2 separate regions of the Homo sapiens genome follow, and region 2 is linked to region 1. The links come from fine-mapping of genetic effects on gene expression. A gene starts in region 1. The other region holds a variant in brackets. All regions are shown on one strand. Distances are between the middles of the regions.

Evidence for each region. PIP is the estimated chance that this variant, and not a neighbour inherited with it, causes the effect.
Region 2: its variant is fine-mapped to the expression of SLC15A4 in monocytes after LPS (Quach 2016, PIP 0.95).

Annotation. Positions count from the first base shown.
Region 1 is chr12:128,822,360-128,825,264 of GRCh38, forward strand. It overlaps SLC15A4 (solute carrier family 15 member 4), which reads right to left and starts at 1,599. Exons shown (of 8, transcript NM_145648.4): 1 at 1,039-1,599. The coding sequence starts at 1,584. It overlaps LOC124903083 (a long non-coding RNA gene), which reads left to right and starts at 1,585. Exons shown (of 2, transcript XR_007063602.1): 1 at 1,585-2,905. RefSeq lists an enhancer at 1,350-1,509.
Region 2 is chr12:128,792,794-128,795,698 of GRCh38, forward strand. SLC15A4 (solute carrier family 15 member 4) reads right to left here. Exons shown (of 8, transcript NM_145648.4): 8 at 401-1,563. The coding sequence ends at 1,403. Among named protein-coding and RNA genes, the nearest start is that of SLC15A4, 30 kb to the right of the region's middle. RefSeq lists an enhancer at 2,351-2,490. The variant A/G (reference allele first, on the strand shown) is at 1,526.

The sequences.
Region 1 (2,905 bases):
CCACTTCTTTGTAAAGGAAGCTAAGGCAACAACGGGGGCTTCCCCTTCCCTCAGCTTCCTGGCCCAGGGCCCTGCACCTGCGAATCCCCATGTCTGGAAAGCTCCTCAAACAACTGCTCTTTCCTAGCCTTCTGGTCTGAACTTACAGGGCCTGAACATAGAAGGGTCCCGTTCATTTATTTTTTATTTATTTATTTATTTTTATTTGGAGACAGAGTCTCGCTCTGTCGCTCAGGCTGGAGGAGTGGAGTGGCGCGATCTCGGCTCATCGCACCTCTGCCTCCCGGGTGCAAGCGATTCTCCTGCCTCAGCCTCCCGACTAGCTGAGAGAACAGGTGCCCGCCACCACGCTCGGCTAATTTTTGTATTTTTAGCCAGGCTGGTCAGGCTGGTCTCGAACTCCTGACCTTAGGTGATCCACCCACCTCGGCCTCCCAAAGTGTTGGGATTACAGGCGTGAGCCACTGCGCTCAGCGTATTTTTTAAATTTTATTTATTTATTTTTTTGAGGTGGGGTCTCACTCTGTTACCCAAGCTAGAGTGCACTGGTGTGACCCTAGCTCACTGCAGCCTCCGAAACTCGTAGGCTCAAGGAATCCTCCTTTCTCTGCTAGGACTACAGGTGTGCGCCTCCACGGAGGGCAAATTTTTAAATTTTGGTAGAGATGAGGTCTCACTGTGTTGCCCAACCTGGTCTCAAAGTCCTGGGCTCAAGAGATCCTCCCGCCTCGGCCTCCCAAAGTGCTGGAATTACAGGCGTGAGCCACCGCGCCCGGCCTCTCTTTTCTTTAAAGCCACTGTGGCCATCACTGTGTGTGTAGACCTCACCCCGCCCCAGGCAAACCCCTTCCAGCACCCATCACACCGGTACCTCCAGTCTTGGCCCACCTGCTGGCGGGATTCCTCGGCACTAGACAGAAGCCCCCCGGGGCAAGGGGCTCCCTCCGCGGTCAGAGGCAGGGACTGGGGCAGGGGAAGAGGCTGGGGCTGGGCAGGGGCTGGACAGGGACAGGGACAGCGCGCGGGGGCGCGGCTCACCTGGTCGGCGCCGAAGGGCGTGATGTTGGCCTTGACGGTGGCCACGCCCAGGCCCACCAGCACCAGCCCCGCGAAGGTGGCCGGTGAGCAGCAGCGGGCGGCGGCGTCGGGACCAGGCGCCGTGCAGTTGAGCAGGCGCGCGGAACCGCAGAGCGCGGCTCGCGTGGCGGGCGCGGCCAGCAGCGGGAAGGCCAGCATGCCCAGCAGGTAGAGCGCCAGGCTCAGCAGGATGGCGCGCGCCCGGCCCAGCCGCGCGTCGGCCAGCCAGCCTCCGAACGGCGAGCCCAGGTAGGTGAGGCCCATGAAGAGCAGCAGCGCCTCGCTGGCCTGCGCGCCCTCCCAGCAGAACGGCGCCCCGTTCAGGAATAGCACCAGGTTGGACGTGATGCCGTAGAAAGCGGCGCGCTCCAGCAGCTCCGTCAGCAGCACGGCCCCGCACGCCGCGCGCCGGCCCGCGAACGCCCCAGCCGCCGCCGCGGCCGCCGCCGCCCGCCGCGCGCCCAGCAGCGGCGCCCGCTCGCCCGCACCGCCCCCAGAGCCCTCCATGCGACGCCGCCAGCTGCCTCGCCCCGCCGCCGGGTCACCTGTCCCAGAACCCAGGGCCGCCGCCCTTCTCGCGAGACTGCCGGGCCTGAGATGTCCCTATTGGGCGGGCTCGCCGCTGCTCAACGCCCCACTCGCCGGAACTTCCGGCCCCGCCCCGGGCACTAGGCGAGGAGGTGGCCGGTATTCTGGATCACTGCGTGTCTTGGGGAGCTTGGGATTCCGCAGCTTGGCGGCCGAGAGCCTTTGTTTGCCTTTTTGAGACAGGGTTTCCCTCTCTCGCCCAGGCTGGAGCGCAGTCATGCGGTTACGCCTCACTGCAGCCTCAGCTTCCCAGGATCAAGCGGCCCTCCCACCTCAGCCTCCCGGGTAGCTGGGACCGCAGGCGCTCGCCGCTGCCTGTGGCTAATTTTTAAACAGTTTTTTGAAATGGGGTCTCGCTTTGTTGCTCAGGTTGGTCTCGAACTCCTGGCATCAAGCGTTCCTCACGTCTCAGCCTCCCATAGTGTTGGAATTACGTGCATGAGCCACTGCAGGCAGTCGGACTAAGGGAGTTTAAACAAAGAAGCCGGAGCCTGGCCCTCTTCGGGCTTCGGTGGGGCCCAGTAGGCAGCCAAAACTCACACTGAGACGGCGGCTGCTCTCCAGGCGGGTTTGCTCAGGCTGCCCCCGTGCTCCCTGCCCTGGGCTTCAGTCCTGGAGAGGACCCGGTTTCTCAACCCGTGCATCGTTGGCACTTTGAGCGACGGGACTGTCCTGTGCGTTGCACGATGTTCAGCAGCAGCTTTGGCCTCTGCTATCCACTAGGGGCCAGTTCCACCCCCTAGCACCTCAGGTTAACAACCGAAAATGTCTTCTAGACTTTGCCGAAGGACTCCTGGGGGCAAATACGCCCCCATTGAGACTCACTGGCTTAGAACAAGGCAAGCTCCAGCCTGTTTCAGGCTTTCCCAGAGACTGCCCCTACACCATCTATGGTTGCATGGCTGGCTTCTCATCCTTCAACCTTCCACCGAAGTGTTGACTTCAGAGAAACATTTTTTTCACTAGCCTGTCCAAGGCCCGAGTATCCCATTCCATCATGTTACTCTTTTCTCCTTATTACCTGTTACATTTTTTAATTTATTCGTTTATCTCCCCAACCTGCATGTGTTAACAGGTGTAAGCTTCCTGATGGCAGGATTCTCTTGTGTTTTGTTCCTCACTGTGCCCCCTGCCTCTGGGACAGCGCCTGGCACATAGTGGAGTGAAAGAGTGCCGCCCAAAAATGGCCCTCAGCATGGCTTCAGAAATTGAGACCCCGGCCTGGGATGGTGGCTCACGT
Region 2 (2,905 bases), 30 kb before region 1:
CTGCCCCGTTTTTTTTAACCTGGGCTCACAACTCCGGCCCCTCTGAGATCCAGTGATACCATGAGTGTCATCTGTATTCACTCTATCCTACTTCCACTGGTTGAAATGTCTTGTATTTTTCTATAGTTTTTCTATACTTTCTATTACACAACGAACAACAACGTGAGGGTTTTTTGGTTTGTTTTTTGTCTTCTCCAAATGCTGAAACTACCCTTCCATGCAGAGGAGGCTGCAGAATCAGGAGACGCGCCGGAGCATCCGAGGGCTGTGCAGGAGCGCACTTCCCCACCCTCCCCTCAGTTCCCGACTCGGGAAGCTCTGCGCCTTCTACACGACAGGGGAGGAATCCACACGCCACACCAGCAGCGACTGAGGACAAACCACGCAAAGAACCGGCTCATGGATTTCGCATTTGAGATGCTTTTTATAATAAAGTTATGCCAAAAATACAGCAACAAATACAGAAAAAGTATTAACAAACGGAGAAGCCCCAGATACACGTACAGTAACAATACAAAAATGTGACTGGTCAAACAGCTCAAGTTCACATTTAACACTTTCAATTATTTTTAATTACACTATTTCTGTTCAAAAGAATGTTTTCCTTACATACAACCATGATCAGTCTTTAGTCTCAATCGTACCAAAATAAAGCTATATATAAGCACTCTGACTAGGTAAGGTGTGAAGTACCCCGTGAGTTGCTCTGTGGCTTGAGATGGGACACATGGTCTCAAATGACTCTTATGCATGCCTTGCCTTAAGAAAGAAAAGTAATGTTGATGGTTTAAAAAGTAAGTACTTTTTGAAGCAGCAGATGAAATGTGTTTACTACCAGCCTAAATCAAAGAACATGGCAAGAGCAAGATTGTTCTCAGGAAGGAAACCATAAATATGGCATTTATGTAAAATCCTTGCAGCATCTGACCATGCTTTTATCTTTAAAAAAAAAAAAATCCTCACTTTCTTAAATATAAGTAACAGTTTATTAATTTTTTTTTTACAGTGAGATATGGCTATGGGAAGCAGGTGATACTATTTGTTTAAGAAACTGGGATGCCAACTAACACGTGGAGTTCCCCAAGACTTTGCAATCTCCATTTGTGAGTTTCTGTAAAAAAGGGAACCCAGCTAGAGGATTCACAGAGACCTTGAATGACAAGCGACATACTCGAAATCTGCAGCTCTCCTCCCGGAGGGCCCAGCGTGCCAGGAGACACGCTGCAGTAAGGCACTTACCAAGCTCCTTTGGATAGAGGGAAAGAAGAAATCAATCCAGGCAACATGCAAGTTTCAGTGAAGTCAGACATTTTATGGGAATTTAAAGTCTTGCCTGTTCTCAGTGCACCCCAGTCAGTTACTGACATGTCAGCCTCAGAAACCGCACATGGCCTCAGGAAGGTCAGGCCCTCCTGCTGGTGGGCACGCCATTGGCTCTTGATCGCTGATGGTCTCGATGATGGTCATATTTCACAGAAATAATGAGGAAAAGCAGGAGGGTAGCTCCTTGAATAGCAGCCAGAAG[A/G]AAAAAGTAATAGTTCAAATAGCAGCCGTTAATATTACCTGGAGAAAACAAAAGGAAAGCGGCAGGTAAGCTGCGCTGCTACAGGTATTTTTTCAAGACTTTACTATTTAATCTGGTTCCCACTAAGGTTTAACTGGAGTCATAAAAAAAGTAACAAATGTTGTCTCTGTAGTCCAAAATGCACAAGCATCTTGCTTTCAAAACCACTGAAGAAGCTCCCTGAAGTCAGATACATCGCCACCGGGGGCTCTGGAGGTGGGCTGTCTGCAGCCCCCCACCTGCCCCTAGCAGCCCATCCCTCTCTTCTGTAAGGTAAAAGGAGGAGGTTCCCTGAGGAAACTAGAAAAGGTAGCTCCCCAGTACTCAGGAAAATCCCTGCGTGGCCTGCAGACACACATGCGGTGGTGAAGGGGACAGTGTCGACGGAGAGTGTGCCTAAGGCCGCACGACAAGGCTGCAAATCAGGAGCAAGGGGAAACCTGCCAACCCAGCCTCCTGTGACTGCTAATCCCCCCACACCAGAACAGCTGGGCAAAGTAAAAAATTACCTTCCTGTGTTCTTGCCACCAGAAACAAGTGTTAGCCGGTCTGGTGTTATTTCCTTCCTGCCTTTTCTGAGGCAGTGTTCCTCTCCTCAACTACTTCAGGGGAACTTCCTCCATTTATAGTTATGATTGGCCTGGAACTGCATTGTTGAGGAAGGCAGATGCGAAGATAACAAAAGAGCGCCTGACTATCTCTTTATCGAATCCTGAGGTGAGCGTCTTTGTAACTTGGCTATGGAACCTGTGCACTTTTTAGCATCACAGATTGCACTATGACACAGCCTGAACATCGTGAATTCTGGATTCACTGCATGGGTCACTGACACACCCAACACACCAGGGCCGACAGCTGGGCAATGTATCAAAGGAAGAGATGAGCTGGTTTCTGAATGTGTCTTAAACATGTTCAGGTTTTAGCATCCTCAAACTGACACAAGCAGATACCTCTGCATACTTTAATACAAAGAGTTAGCATACACTGAATACCCAACCGAGTCCCGGGCACTATGGAGGCACTTTACACGCAACGTCTGCATCCCAAGCAGGCTGGACAGCACAGAGGATAAGATCATGGGCCATGCAGCTCAAGCTATAAGGCTTGAATCCGGCCTCTGAGACCTCTGTGCTCAGTTTCCTCATCTGTAAAATGGGGAAAGCGCCGAGGAGCAGCATTTCAGAAAGGCACTCAAGAGGGAGTCTGGACGCGGTGAGGGTGCTAGCAACACGTGCCACGGTCATGATCCCCCTTTCACAGAGGTCTGGAACTGTCCACTCTGCAAACTGGCAGTCTCTCCGCCAGAGAACAGAGTTCAGCCAGCACCGGCTAACATCACCA